Linked DNA regions of Homo sapiens: region 1 is linked to region 2. Evidence: fine-mapped expression QTL. Tissue or cell type: lung. Region 2 holds a variant in brackets; the other region holds the start of a gene. All regions are shown on one strand. Distances are from middle to middle.

Evidence for each region. PIP is the estimated chance that this variant, and not a neighbour inherited with it, causes the effect.
Region 1: it holds the start of MTUS1, and the variant in region 2 is fine-mapped to the expression of MTUS1 in lung (TOPMed, PIP above 0.99).

Annotation. Positions count from the first base shown.
Region 1 is chr8:17,797,224-17,805,320 of GRCh38, forward strand. MTUS1 (microtubule associated scaffold protein 1) reads right to left here and starts at 3,871. Exons shown (of 15, transcript NM_001363059.2): 1 at 3,838-3,871. It overlaps MTUS1-DT (MTUS1 divergent transcript), which reads left to right and starts at 4,119. Exons shown (of 3, transcript NR_186403.1): 1 at 4,119-4,519. RefSeq lists silencers at 3,985-4,104, 4,185-4,244, 4,285-4,474.
Region 2 is chr8:17,601,826-17,609,932 of GRCh38, forward strand. All of the region lies in intron 2 of PDGFRL (platelet derived growth factor receptor like), which reads left to right. LOC107986919 (a long non-coding RNA gene) reads right to left here. Exons shown (of 2, transcript XR_001745819.2): 2 at 3,821-4,221. Among named protein-coding and RNA genes, the nearest start is that of PDGFRL, 29 kb to the left of the region's middle. The variant G/A (reference allele first, on the strand shown) is at 4,868.

The sequences.
Region 1 (8,097 bases), 200 kb after region 2:
GCAACATGGCAAAACCTTGTCTCTACAAAAAATACAAAAATTAGCCAGGCATGGCGGCACATGACTGTAGTCCCAGATACTCAGGAGGCTGAGGCGGGAGGATAGCTTGAGCCTGGGACGTGAAGGCTGCAGTAAGCTATGATCATGCTACTGTATTCCAGCCTGGGTGACACAGCAATATCCCGTCTCAAAAAATAAAATAAAATAAAATAAAATAAAAAGTTAGAAGAAATTACAAGTCAAATTCAACTCCTGGTTATACTGGACCATCCAAAACCAGGTATAAAGTCTCCCTGGTCAAAGTAGGCTTTTCGGGGCCAGATTTCAAGCTAGCTGAGTTCATACCATCCCATCTAGTCCTTCATTTCCTGTGGGTGGGATCGCTCATCCTCCTTCTCAGGAGGCCACAGTCACCACTGTATCCGCTGCTAAGTGGTCACCTCCCTCCGGGGCCTGCCTTCTTCCAGAGAAAGTCTGAGGCCATTTTTAAGTGCCCCTAAGCACGCAGATCCTGAACTCCAATTTCATCCTTATGGCTCAAATATGGTCCTATCGCTTACTCTTACGCTCTAAGCTTGGGGAATAAAAGGGACTCAGGCTCTCATGGAGAACACACTTCCTTTAGTGAGGACTTTCAGGGTATATTCAAGCTTTCACAACACAGAGAAAGAACCCAACTTTGAGATATCAGGAAGACGTGTTCCCCCGCCCCCCCAAATAAATACTTTGCTGAGTAGCAGTATTGGAAATTAATCCAGGAAATTTTTTAACTACGTATGCAGTACATTTGTCTGGACATCAACAAGTCCGTATGAAACCACAATAATGACTATAAAAAGAAGAATCTGGCAAAATGATACTACAAATAGATTACTGACAATAAATGGAGTGTGAGCCTACTTTGTATAATCACAGAATAACAGATCTGAAAAACATTCAGTCTTAGGGATTTAAAACTTTCTGCTCTGATTTCAAAGGATGTTGTTCCTAATAGTATATACCAGGCCCAGTGGCTTCTCATCAACAAATGCAATTAGTTTTGCAACAGTCTCTAACCCAAGATATGGAAGTTCTTGCAATGAATTTGAAAAGATTCTAATTTAGAATTTGGGGAATTTTTTTTTTTTAAGATGGAGTTTTGCCCTGTTGCCCAGGCTGGAGTGCACTGGAGTGATCTCGGCTCACTGCAACCTCCACCTCCCGGGTTCAAGCGCTTCTCCTGCCTCAGCGTCCCAAGTAGCTGAGATTACAGATCCATGCCAACACAATTGACTAATTTTTTGTATCTTTAGTAGAGACGGGGTTTCACCATGTTGCCCAGGCTGGTCTCGAACCCCTGACCTCCTGATCCGCCCGCCTTGGCTTCCCAAAGTGCTGGGATTAGAGGCGTGAGCCACCGCACCCGGCTGGAAAATTTTTTTTAAATCTTCTACCACAGTCACATATAGTTCTGAAGCTACGATTTAGAAGTGTTAAAAATTCTGTTTTGAGAAAGTCAACAGATTTATCAACATTAAAGAAATTTGTGTATGTCAAAACTACTGTAAATATATAAAGCAAAGATAAAATGGGAAAAGTATCTGCAATATGAATGGCAAAGATTTACTATCAATCCATAAAAGGCTCTTATGAATTAATGGAAAAATACTAATATCCCAGGAGAAAAATCTGGCACTACATCAAATTTCAAAATGGAAAACAACTAGATTTCTTTGGTGTTCAAATCATCTGTAATCAAAGAAATTGAAGTTTAAATATAGAGAAAGCACTGTTCACCTATAAACCTGGGAAGAATTTTTTTTTTTTCCCTTTAAGGATGATTCTACATGTTGACAAGAATACGGTAACACCAGTATTCTCACAGAGAGCTGGTGGGAACATAATTTGGTTAAACATTTTTTGGAAAGCAAATGGTCAATATGTATGAGGAGATCTTCCAACCATCAACTGTATTTCAAGGGCACTAAGGATATTAACCCTGCACATAAAGTTTTAAAAACGTATTTGTTGCAAAAGTATATTTAGTAAGTGGAAATAAATGAAAACCAGTTTGATACATCTATGTAATGTAATATTAAGTAGCCACTAAGATTTCTGAAGATTTCATGACATGGAAAATTTTTCATGATACATTAATCAGGAAAAAACCTCCACGCAATAGTATATTTAGATAAACTATATAACTATAAAAAATTTTTCTATATATTAACAAGTATTTTCTTAAATATTAACTGTGATTATCTTTGCTGAAATTGCTTAACTCACTTTTCTCAATCTACCTATTTTTATACAGCAAGCACGGATTACTTTTGAAATCAAAACAAACAGGGTTAACAGAACAGGGCTATTAAGTAACAGGCTTTTTAAATGCTTGAGTGTAATAACTGCAGGTTAGTTTCCAAAAAATATAAGATATTATCTAGAATCTTATAATCCTATTATACTCCAAAATGTAACCTTGACTTATTGACATAATTAAAAGGTCTTGTTCCAAGCATGATTTTCTACCAAGCAGATTTACCAAGAATTATTTTCTCTTCATAAACCTGATTTTAAAAAGAACAGGTGAAAAAACGTGGTGCAAGTTACATAAATAACTACATATTATTTTAAACTAAATTCCACTTCTAAGGTTTTTTAGCTTTGGTTTTAAGGATAAGCATGTAGTTCTAATCTTTTCTTTGTATAGCTTTCCTAATGGAATATATTGCCTATGAAAAAAAAAAAATCTGTAACAGCACTTTCTACACTGTAAAGCACTGTACTAACAGGACATCACCATTTTAAGTTGTGTATCATTTCCTGCCCTAACCATCCCTGAAAAAGCAAACTGTCTACAGAATTGCAATTCCGTTTATGCAATTCCTTTTAAAGTTGTCCATGCACTGTTATCTTGTATATACCCTCCTTAAAGAGGTCACTGGTTCCCAGGAAGCAATGACTCTCTTTTTTAATCCCCTCCCTCCTGCATTGCCTCCCTTCCTCCTGAAATTCACTGGTAACACCCCTACTCCCACCCTCCAGCCCCAGCGCTGTGATTTAGTGATGATTGACTTTCGATCACCTGCACCTGGCAAAACTTGAAAGCTTCCACGCACCGTTTTGCCTAAGACTTTGGTTTCATTGAAACAAACAAAACACACTGGATTTCCTTTCTTAGAACACTGACTACTTCAAACAAACAGTATTTAACAGAGTATGTGTAACTACGCAGGCTAAATGAATTAACCTCTTCCTTCCTAGTCCCAAATTACTCCAAGTCAAAAATCAACAAACAACTTGGTAGAAAGGAGTACGTCTTCAAAAAAGAACAAAAACGTTCCTCAGTGAACACCTAAGTCCACTAAGCACTATAGAGTAGTCAATAAGGTCACCTTAATTAAGATGAGATTTTTCTAGAGCGTGAAAAAGTGCAAACAAGCTGCAGAAAGTAGCGAGGCGCCACGAGGGGTCTTTGGGACCTGCAGCAACCCTATTCCACCCGCTTTCTCGGCCCCGCTTGCTTCTGCTGAGAAGGGGCCCTGCGAGAAGGCTGGGACCGCCGGGCCCGGGTGGGCGGCGTAAGGAGTCCACAGTCAAGCCCCTCGGTCACTTTCAAGGTGACAGCGACGAGATCCGCATCCGTCCCTTCCGCAGGCTCTGCGCTGGCCCACGTGAGACCCGCCTCCGCTCCGCCGGCGCTGCCGCCCCCTTTAGCCCTCAGCTTCGGCCCCCAGGCCCCTGGAACGCCCCCTCCCCTCCCCGAGGACCGGTCCCGTCACCCTGGGCGGCGCGCTCGCCTGTCCCCTCCCCACCCCGGCCGCCGGGCAGCGGGAACAGATTCCAGCGCGCACTTACCCGCAGCTCCTTCAAGCGCTCCGGGAGCAAAGACGCAGAGGCGGGGAGGGCTGGCGCCCTTTGCACCACTGGCGGGGTCGCCGAGAACCCGCCCCGGAGGTCTCGGGGGCGGCGTCTGCACCTGGGGGCGCGCGGCGCGGCACCACCCCACGCCTGCGGCGGCTACCAGGCGGGACCCGGAGCCCCGGCCTCCCCGCCTCCCCGCCTCCGGGGCCGCCAGGGGGTGGAGCAGGGCGGGGAGTTCGGGAAACTTGTAAATAGCCGAACTCGGGCCTCCCGCCCCAACCCGGGGCGGCTCCTTCCGAAGGCTCCACTCCAGCGGCTCGCTGCGGGAGACCAAGGCCAGCCGCCGTCCCAGGGGACGGCCCTCGGGGAACCTGAATGACGTGCGAGGCCGTACCTCGGGGCGCTGGACTCCGCTCGGGCGCTCCCGCTCTCCGCTCCCGCTCTCGGGTCCCAATCCCGACGCTCCGCGCGCTCCCGGACTAAGTGCGGACGCGCCCCACGCCCCCCGGCGCCAGCCCGGGACAGCGCTGCACCTGTTGCCACGTGCGACGCGGCGCTCAGCGGCTGCCACTGCCGCCGGCGCACCTGGCTGCACCGCGCGTCCCGGGACCACGCTCGTCCCCGCAGGAGCCCGGGGCTCCGCCGCACCCAGCGCTAGGGCCCAGGCCGGGCCGCGGTAGGTGGGGGATCTGACTCCTGCTTGCCTCTGGCCACCTGCAGGCCGAGGGGCCTCGCACCGCGGGGCGTATAGAAGGTGGGAAGGTTGCAGAATTATCAGGGCGGAAGCTTGCAAGGAAGGAGTCGTGATTGTCTCTTAGAAGGGCTGATTCGCAGTCTGTATTATCTTCATGCTTCTAGCAAGTTTACTAGCAAGTGTGTATTAAAGGTTAAAGAAAGTAGCTTTCCAGCTATTAGAGCTTGAGATACAACGTGGAAAGGAGTCTAGAACCCCAGGGAGATAAACTAGGCTCGACCTACTTTTCTCTAAACACAAACACAGTCCTTGCTGTTTGCTAAACTGAGCAAATTTCATCGACAGCTGTCTTCTAGGTCCGTAAAATATTTTCTTCTATAAAGCATATTTTTAATAGAAAACTTGTCCGAAGATGCTATTCTGCCTGTGAGAGATGTCACATTGCTGAACCGTGAAATGTCAGACAACCTGAGAACAAAATTTTAATATTTCCTTTTTAATTACCTGGATTGTGGTTTGCTAAAAGCTTTTAAAGAGAAGTGAACTTTTTTGGAGAATAGACGTAAGGACTCTGTATTTCACAGTTTTCTATACCATGAATATTAGAATAACTGACAGATGTCTTGCCATTGATAGTTGTAAAGACTTTTCATATGTACAATGATCCATTATTTCCTGACTACAAAACCCAGGGGTATATAGGTCAGATTATCTCCATTATTCAAATGAGGAATTGAAGCTCAGAAAGGTCAAGTGACTAGCGCAAGGTCACACAGCCAGTGAGGGCAAGTGCAAACCCAGCCAGCCTAACTCCTAATCTTCTCTTTTAATTCCATTACATAATGACACCTCTCATTTGCTTCAGAAATCCCTGTTGTAAAGATAGATGCAACTAGCATGATCCGTGTTGTTAGGAAAGGCATGTGATTAATTTTAAATAGATATAGTATTTAACACCACCAGATGAGTCTCCCTCTGAAAAAGCACACAAAAACAAAACAAAACGCTGACATAGTTTCCGCAAGTCACGAGGCAATTATGCTAATTAGCAACAAGCCTCCATCCCTAAGCAGAATAGTTCTTGTGTGAAACATATCATTTAATCTTTATAACCCTGATGTGACCTAGATGATTTGGTCTAAACCCCACAATCCTATTGTGTGGCTTAGTTATATCTATAAATATAGAACCTGTTTTACTTCATTTTTGTGTCAGGTGGTTTGAAGGGGGGAAACATACAATGCTCTGCTAAGTAATTAGAGCTACTTACGCAGGCATTGGGGAATCTGAAACTTAGCTTCTAATTGTCTCCACATAAAAACAGAAGTTAACTTCTAGGGACATCTTCAGGGACTCCTCAAGGCAAATATTCATGAAATGGGGCCTATTGGCTTTTCTTTTCATCTTGGTTCTGGGCATGTTGCCATGTTCCTGATCTCTGAACTCTGATGCTGACCTGCTACAGACTCCAGGAGCAATATTAAGGATAAAATAATAACTCACATAACTTTGTGGCTCTTTATTCTAAAAAAAAAAAAAAAAGTTGGCTCAATTTTTTTTCCTCCATAAGAAAATGCAAATTGCAACTGTATTGAGAAACCATTTTTTCACTTATCAGATTGTCAAAGATTAGAAAGTTTGATAATCACAGTGTTGGTAAAAGTGTAGACTAGCAGTCACAATGAAAATGTAAATGTAAATTATAATGACCTCCCTAGGGGGAAGGTCAGGATACCTAACAATATTGCAACTATACGTATAAGAGTTTATCTTGGCCCTGCGTGGTGGCACGGTGACTCATGCCTGCAATCCCAGCACTTGGGGAGGCCGAGGCGGGCAGATCACCTGAGGTCAGGAGTTGGAGACCAGCCTGGCCAACATGGTGAAACCCTGTCTCAACTAAAAATACAAAAATTAGCCAGACATGATAGCAGGCGCCTGTAATCCCAGCTACTTGGGAGGCTGAGGCAGGAGAATCCCTTGAACCTGGAAAGCGAAGTTTGCAGTGAGCCGAGATTGTGACACTGCACTCCAGCCTGGGCAACGCACCGCGACTCTGTCTCAAAAAAAAAAAAAGAGTTTATCTTACAACACACAGGAGAAATGGTATGTATCTACAACCTTGTTTATTTCAGCATTGTTTATAATAAGATATATTTCAAATACAAATATTCTTTAGTAAAGGACTGATAAATCATGATATAGGCATAAAATGAAATCTTATGAAAGCTTTTAAAAAGACTGAGAAAGCTCTTTGTACTTTTATGAGATGATCTTCAATCTATGTCATGTGCATTTTTTAACACAAAACAATTACCTAATAGTATGCTACAATTTCTACTAAAAGGGAGGAAATGATACAAACTTGTATAGATACATATATAGATATGTTTGTATAAGCATAAACTAAGCATAAGCCACCAGGCATGGTGGCTTGCACCTTTAATCCCAGCTATTTGGGAAGTCTAAGGGGGAGGATAATTTGAACCCAAGAGTTTGAGACCTGCCAGGGCAACTTAGACCCTGTCTCTATAAAAAATACAAAAATTAGCTGCGCATGGTGGCATGCGCTTATAGTCCCAGCTACTCTGGAGGCTGAGGTGGGAGGATGGCTTGAGTCCAAGAGGTTGAGGCCATCGTGAGCCATGATTGTGCCACTGCATTGCAAGCTGGTGACAGAGCAAGACCCTGTGTCAAAAGAAAACAAAACAAAAACCCATAAAATATCTGGAGAGATATACCAGAAGCAGATAACATTGGTTGTGTCTTGAGATGGGAGTTGGATAGTTAAATGGCAGCATTAGAAGAGAAATTTGTTACTAAATACAATTTTGTACTTTTTTTGGATTTTGAGCCATATAAATAACAGAACCCATTCTAATATTTTAAAATGTTTTACCGCATGAAGTTTTGCCATCAGGAATGACCAAAGTTTCTCTGTGAACGAATTTCACTTATAGATAAAATAAATGATTGGTCAGGCATGGTGCCGTGGTAGGTGTATCACCTGAGGTTCGGAGTTCGACAGCAGCTTGACCAACTTGGAGAAACCCCGTCTCTGCTAAAAATACAAAAATTAGCGGGGGCATGGTGGTGCATGCCTGTAATCCCAGCTACTAGGGAGGCTGAGGCGGGAGAATCGCTTGAACCTGGGAGGCGGAGGTTGCGGTAAGCAGAGACCTCGCCATTGCACTCCAGCCTGGGCAACAAGAGCGAAACTCCATCTCAAAAAAAAAAAAAAATGTTCAATAGATGCTTCTGACCCTATTTCTTCTCTAGTTTATCTAAAAAAGACAACTTTGGTACATAAAACTCTAACACAAGTGTGGTGAAAACGATGAATTAGCAAATTGTAAATTCCTTGCAATTTGATTAGCAGTGACATCTCCCTTGGGTAGGGCTTCCAGATAACTTTACCAAAGTTGCATTCAATCAGAAATGAAAAAAGTATTCCAGGCCTTAATTCTCAAGGGGAACTCCATGGAGTCATTGCCTTTGTTCCCAATCCGGGTCCCTTTTTTTTTATTTATGTTTCCTTATGGCACCATCTCACTGAGAAG
Region 2 (8,107 bases):
TCCATGGTGTGTATGTACCACATTTTCTTTATGCAGTCTACTATTGATGGGCATCTAGGTTGATTCCTTGTCTTTGCTCTTGTGACTAGTGCTGCATGAACATAGGAATTCTTGTGCCTTTGTGGTAGAACTATCTATATTCCTTTGGATACATACTTGGTAATGGGATTGCTGGCCCACATGGTAGCTCTAAGTTCTTCAAGAAATATCCAAACTGCTTTGCACAGTGGCTGAATGAATCCACATTCCCACCTGCAGTATGTAAACTTCCCCTTTCCTCCATGACCTTGACGGCATCTGTTATTTTTGGCTTTGGTTACTAGCAGTTCTGACCGGTGTGAGAGGGTATCTCATTGTGGATTTGGTTTGGATTTCTTTAATGATTAGTATGTTGGGCATATTGGCCATGTGTATGTCTTCGAGGAAGCCCCACTTTTTGACAGATAAGGGAACTGAGAGTCATAGAGGAGATGTGGCTGGTCAGAGGGACAAGCTGGCAAGTGGCTGCATGAGTCCCAGAACTTGGGAGCCCTAGTTCCTGAGGCAGAGCGGCTGCCCCACTTCAGAGCTCTGTGGTATGTGTGTTGAGATAAATTCAGATCACAGTACACTCTCGGTCTGATGGAGGTAGCTTCAGGCAAGAGAGAGTAATCATCGAATTTTTTTTTAAAGCTGTAGACTAAACTAACCTGATTTCTAAAGATTCAAAACAGAAATGAAAAGCAGATACCCAGAATGAGGCATTGATTTTTCTTGGTGGAATAGCTTTGCGTGGAAAGTGGTTGAAATTCCACATTGATTTAGGGTAGCTCTTTGGATGCCAGAGTGTGAAAACCTGATACTGGGCTATTTGGAAAGGAGAGCTCTGTTGGAAGAGCGTAACTGCAGGATGCTCTTGGAGTTCTGGTCTACTCTGCGATGCTTGTTTGCAAAACCCTGTCATGAGAAGGTCCACTAGATGGCAGGTTTCAGCTGTGCTACAACTGGCTTCCTATCACCAGTAAATGAAGAAACATTCCAAATGAGAACTGAGTGGATACAATATGTGCCCACTTATACCTATGGTCCTTTCAGCCTTTCAGGCTACGTAGTGGTCACAGTTTCAAGTTGTATTTTAAACAGTATAGAATTCATTTTACAAACAAATTTTATTTTATTTTTATTTATTTATTTTTGGAGACAGAGTCTTCTTTCTTGCCCAGCCTGGAGTGCAGTGGCACGATCTCAGCTTACTGCAACCTCTGCCTCCTGGGTTCAGGTGACTCTCATGCCTCAGCCTCTCAAGTAGCTGAGGTTACAGGCGTGCGCCACCAAGCTTGGCTAATTTTTTGTGTTTTTAGTAGAGACGGGGTTTTGCGATGTTGGCCAGGCTTGTGTTGAACTGTTGACCTCAAGTGATCCACCCACCACCTGGGCCTCGCTAAGTGCTGGGATTACAAGCATGAGCCACCACGCCCAGCCCAACAAACACATTTTTTAAAAAGGGAGCAGACATTTGTAAGTGTATGTACCCACACAGGGACAAATTTATTCATGCCCCTGTCCCCTGCTGGGTCTTTCAGGAGCAGTGGCCCCCTTGAACAGTGTAGTTGATCCCTTCGAGGCTAATATAAACTTGCTGATGACTGTATTTTCAGGTGCTGAAATTGATTCAGGTTTTACCTCCAGACTCAGTCCATCCCAGATCCCATAAACATCTCCTGTCTTTGAGATCGGAAATAGCAAAGGTACTGTTTCTGACAACAGTAGTTATCATTTGTCGAACACTCTGTTTCTTGACTCCTCTGCCCTGTTCCTTTCTTCCCACTGTTTTATCATAAGCATCTACTATGTTTGTGGTCTCTGCTAGGCAGATGATGGAGATAAGATGGTGAGCAAAATAGATAAAATCTCTATATCCCATAGATCTTTTAATCTTAGGGAAGACAATTAAATAAGCAATTTTAATAAAATATTAAAGTCTGTTAGCAAGTGCCTTGCTAACCGAAGTATGCTGTCAAGGAGGAGGAAACTCAAGCTCATATTTGAAAGTTCCCTGGGTAAGGAAGGGCATAGCAAGATATAAGGAAATTCCAGAAAGAGAGAAGTGTTTGAAGGAAGTACCTAGAAGTGGGAAAGAGTATAAAACTTGGAGCATGAAGGGCAGGTGGGTAAGATGTGGCGGTCAGAGGCGAGGGAGTGGGAAGGAGGTTAGGAGGAGAGATGATGATGGGAGGTGAGGCAGACCATGGAGGGCCTTGTTGGCCACATTAAGAAATTTAGAGTGCTGGAGAGGATGTGGAGTAATAGGAACACTTTTACACTGTTGGTGGGACTGTAAACTAGTTCAACCATTGTGGAAGTCAGTGTGGCGATTCCTCAGGGATCTAGAACTAGAAATACCATTTGACCCAGCCATCCCATTACTGGGTATATACCCAAAGAGTTATAAATCATGCTGCTATAAAGACACATGCACACGTATGTTTATAGCGGCACTATTCACAATAGCAAAGACTTGGAACCAACCTAAATATCCAACAGCGATAGACTGGATTAAGAAAATGTGGCACATATACACCATGGAATACTATGCAGCCATGAAAAATGATGAGTTCATGTCCTTTGTAGGGACATGGATGAAGCTGGAAACCATCATTCTCAGCAAACTGTCGTAAGGACAAAAAACCAAACACTGCATGTTCTCACTCATAGGTAGGAATTGAACAACGAGAATGCATGGACACAGGAAGGGGAACTTCACATACCGGGGACTGTTGTGGGGTGGGGGGATGGGAGAGGGATAGCATTAGGAGATATACCTAATGCTAAATGACGAGTTAATGGGTGCAGCATACCAGCATGGCACATGTATACATATGTAACAAACCTGCACGTCATGCACATGTACTCTAAAACTTAAAGTATAATAATAATAAAATTTAAAAAAAATTTAGAGCAAAATTTAGGGCAATTATGAGTCGAGGATTTAAAGCCTTTCTAAATATGTATACAAAGAAAATGCATGGCTGGGCATGGTGGCTCACGCCTGTAATTCCAGCCCTTTGGGAGGCTGAGGCGGGTGAATCACTTGAGCTCAGGAGTTTGAGACCAGCTTGGGCAACATGGCAAGACCCCATCTCTACGAAAAAAGATACACAAATTAGCAGAGCATGGTGGCGTGTGCCTATAGTCGTAGCTACCTGGGAGGCTGAGGTGGGAGGATTGCTTGACTCTGGGAGGTGGAGGCTGCAGTGAGCTGAGATCATGCCACTGCGCTCCAGCTTGGGCAACAGAGTGAGACTCTGTCCCAGAAAGAATGAAAGAAGGGAGAGAGAGAGACAGGGAGAGGGAAGGAAGGAGGGAGAGAGACTGAAAGAAGATGCTGAGTAATATAAACCGCATTGTGAGGGTTAGCCGTCCTCATTGCCTTCAGAAGAAAGACAATGTCTCTTCCTGTGTCAGTTGCCTCCATCCTTCCTCCCCATGCCCCATACCCATTTCACTCCAACTGGGGTCTTTAGATGTGTTCTTGGACCTCATGCTTTTTTGCAATAATTTTTTAAATTTTTTCTTGCATTTTGTTGATAATATTAAAAACTTTGTGTAAGAATATTCTGGATTATCTGAATAACCCCTGCTGGGAGATCAACGTGACCCATTTGCATCTTCTCTGCACACATTTTGTTTCTTGAATCTCATCATAACACACTTCCAGGGTGTAAAGCCAGAGAATTCTTGGCACCGCGCTGAGCCAGGGAAGAAAATGAGATGAAACGGAGAATAAGTGGGTCTGGACGAAGGCTTAAATATAACCAATCAATGCTGGTAGGAACAAGGAGACGTTGGAGATTTCAGCTATGTTGTCAGCAACATCACAGCAGTAAAAACAAGATAGGCTGATGTGGTAATAAGCCCTGGTCCTGCTCCCTAGGAAATAAGAGTCCAGGCATTGTCTTTCAGGATGTTTTTCTGGTATCTGGTCGGATGTTAGCATTTTTTCAGTCAAAAACTGGGAGTTGGGAGGAGTGCGTGGGGCACAGGAGATCTCTTTGATGGCTGGCTCCTCGGAAAACAATAAATAGCTTTTAGAGAGAAGGGAGGGCATCGGGCTTTTCATTTGGCCACGGTTGGCAACAGCTTACTCCACCCACAGACAACACAAAGGGAGGGTGGGCCGATGGAGCAGAGAGTGGGCTCCCAGCCAGGCTCATCATGTCATCCAGCATCTGGAGGGAGAGTCTGGAAGACATTTTAAAAGAAAAGGAGAAATATCTTAAGTGGTTATCAACAGAAGAATCCCACCATTGAGAAAGAATCTGCACAGACTTTGGTAAATGTTGTGGAGAGTACTCTGGTGTTATGCTGAGTAAGGTATTTTTTTTCAAATAATTTATATTTTTCGAAAATACACAGAACGTACAATTTACCATATTAACCATTTTTAAGGAGATAGTTCAGTACACTTAAGTGCATTCATATCATTATGTGAGTGTCTTTTGTATGCGAACTCACTTTCCTCCAAAGCTCGTTTTATTTTATTTTCTGAGCAGAACAAATGAAGATGAGGAGGCTCTCACTTTGCCTTCATTCTTATCTGGAGCATGGGTCCAATTGGGGTCTAATTTGCAGTGGCCAGTCAAAAGGAAACGCCACCCCCAAACTCTAATACTTGCCTTCAAATGGTCTTCCACCCCAGAAATGACAAATAGGTGACCTAACCAATGCTGAAGGTAGAGCGTTCTCTTTCCAGACTCACTGGCACCAGCTGCAGGCCCTCCGTATTTCCCCAGAGATGGGTGGGTGGAGGCTGCAGGATACAAGACTTCCCCCAGTGTACTCAATGTTCTGAGAGCGTTCAGCTTGCAGAAAAACACAGCTATGTTCC[G/A]TTCAGGACAAGGGTGGGGGGCAGGTAATAATAGAACGAGGCTCATTGTGCTGTTCTCAGGATAGAATGAGGTCATGCGTGTAAACCTCTTGGCACACATAGTAAGCCACCTAAATATCGGTGAGCTATTTCTGTTCACCATACTGTACCCAAAGGAGGTAAATCATAAGAAACAGCCAGTTTTTCGTTTTTTGTTTTTTTGTTTTTTTTTTTTTTTTTTTGAGACGGAGTCTTGCTCTGTCACCCAGGCTGGAGTGCAGTGGTGCAATCTGGGCTCACTGCAACCTCCACCTCCCAGGTTCAAGCAATTCTCCTGCCTCAGGCTCCTGAGTAGCTGGGATTACAGGTGCATGCCACCATGCCCTGCTAATTTTTGTATTTTGATTGGAAATGGGGTTTCCTCATGTTGGCCAGGCTGGTCTCAAACTCCTGACCTCAAGTGATCCACCTGCCTTGGCCTGCGAGTTTCGTTTTAAGAAACGTTTTAGACGTGTGTCTCAATCCCCTACAAACTCTTTGTGTCCATAGCACTGTGGAGGGCTCACTGATGCTCATACTAATGGTCCCAAGGTTCTCTAGATCACCCATTGCTCGTCGATCTAGTCATTAGAGTAGGGGAAATTGGTTGAAGCACGTTCTATAGTTTTGGGGAAAACGTCTTCTGCTAACTCTTACTTAAAAATAATGTTTCTACCTACACCAAATATGTATTTAAAAAAACAACAAAAAAAGTTTCTTTCAACAAAACATTTCATTTCTTGAGCATTTCTGGTAAGTCTAGGATTGATTATCCCAGATGTGTTGCACAGAATTAAAATACAGTAAGAAAATGACAATACAGTCAAGCTAGTGCGTTAAACCAAAGACACTGTAGGAATATCACCAACTATGTTAGATGATAATTTTGGGGCATCTTGCAAGATGGAGCATTGTTTATAGTACCAGTGATTGCATGTATTTTATGAGTGAAATGTTGCTTTAACAAGTAAGTATACATGTGGGTGACGTCTGGGATTTAATGCTCAAATGTAAACACTGGTGTGTTAGTAGCATGATTTTTGGCCAAGTATTTGAATATAGAAGATGTAAATAAAACAGCTTTGAAAGATATGTCAAAGGAGGGAGCAAGAAAAGAGGAATAAAGGATAAGATGTAAAATGGGAAATTTTATGTCCACTAGTGTATAATTGTGTAGAATGGCACATTTATAAAAAAGCAAAACGAAGATGTCAGAGGTTTGCCTCCAGTGTCCGGGCTTGGCTGCCTTGGCGGCTCCGTCCCACCCACACAGCCGGCTGCAGGTGGGCAGCTGCTAAGTTGCTGCCCTGGGGAGTCCGCCCAGAACCTTCTCTTGTCACTTCCCGTCCTGCATTCCCAACTTGTCCACTCTGTCCTGGGGCCTCAGGGGCCTGTCTCCTGCCTCGCTTGGTGCCTTCCTGCTCAAAGACTTTGCTTGGATTGCCTTTGGGAGTTCATCCTGATTTGCCCCTGGTCTCTGCCTTTCAGACCACATCCTACTGTCCAAAGCACTCCTCTCTCTCCATCCCACTGCCTAGATCCCAGATGAGATCTGGTGTCTCAGTTACATTGGAGCAGAGGTCAGAAAGCACCAGCTCACCCTTCCCTGTAACAGCACTGTTGTTTGTGAACTTGACTTCATAGCTGGGAAAAGGTAGGGGGTTGGGGGCCCTGTGAGTCAACCAACATTGATACAAGTGAATCAATGTTGAACGTGCCCTCATGCGTTTATTTACCCAGGTGGCTCGTGCATTGGCACAATATATCACATCAGCTGGTAGGCATCCTGGGGAAGGAGGCAGAGGGAGGCACTGTCCCATACAAGAGCCGGAGGGGTGACCAGAGCGAGTGTGTCACAGCCTTCAGTTCAGTGTTGGTCTGCTGAGGAGAATGCACGCTAAATAGCATTAACGTTTGCTTAATGTATATATAAAGGCAGTCTACTAAGTCAGAATGCTTATGAGGGGGGAAAAAAGACAGAAATAGTCCCAACGACAAGCAGCTTAAGAACTAGTGAGATAAAAGACAAACCAGATACAAGGACAGAGCAACAGAAGACAGTGTGTGGTCAAGTGTGAGTGTGGAGCGGCTGATAGGAAGGAGAGAAGGCAGCTGTGAGCAGGCGTTGGTGAGGCAAATGGAATCATTGTGTAAGTGATGACCTGATTGTTGGAGACCAGGCCTTGAAGATAAGATAGAGACTTGTACAAAGCAGAGCCAAGGAGGGGCCAGGCAAGGCAGCTCATGCCTGTAATCCCAGCACTTTGGCAGACTGAGGCAGGAGGATCACTTGAGCCCGGGAGTTTGAGACCAGCCTGAGCAAAATAGTGAGACCCCATCTCTTAAAAACAAACAAAAAGTTTTAGCTGGATATAGTGCTACACCCTGTGGTCCTGGCTGCTTGGGAGGCTGGGGTGGGTGGTTGAGGCTACAGTGAGCCATGGTCACACTGCTGCACTCCAGCCTGGGTGACAGAGCAAGACTGTCTCAAATAGTGATAATAAAATAGGAGCCAGCTGGGCACAGTGGCTCATTCCTGTAATGCCACCACTTTGGGTGGCTGAGGCTGGTGGATCACCTGAGTTTGGGAATTCAAGACCAGCCTGGCCAACATGATGAAACCCTATGTCTACTAAAAATACAAAATTTAGCCAGGTGTGGTAGTGGGCACCTGTAGTCCCAGTTACTTGGGAGGCGCAGGTTGCAGTGAGCTGAGATTGCACCACTGCACTCCGACCTGGGCGACAGAGCGAGACTCTGTCTGGAAAAAAAAAAAAATTACCTGGGTGTGGTGGCGTGCACCTGTAATCCTAGCTACTCAGGAGGCTAAAGCAGGAGAATCGCTTGAACCTGGGAGGTGGAGGTTGCAGTGAGCTGAGATCACGCCACTGCACTCCAGCCTGGGTGACAGAGTGAGACTCTGTAAAAAAAAAAAAAAAAAAAAAAAAAAAAAAATAAGAGCCAAAGAGAACAGCATCAAACCTCCCCCAAAAGATTGTGATATGCAGCCAGGTTGGAGAACCACTGATGTGGCTTGAACCCTACGTTTTAAAAAGTGACTAGATTGAGCCACAGAGCCTAAGAGACTTGCTCATGTTGCACAGCTTTTAGTAAAGTAAACTCAAATCAAGCCATATTCCCAAGATCTCTGTAGTCTCTACACCAAGAAAACAGTTTGTTTATTTAGGTTTCTGATGTTACTCAGAAGATTTACCATCAAAG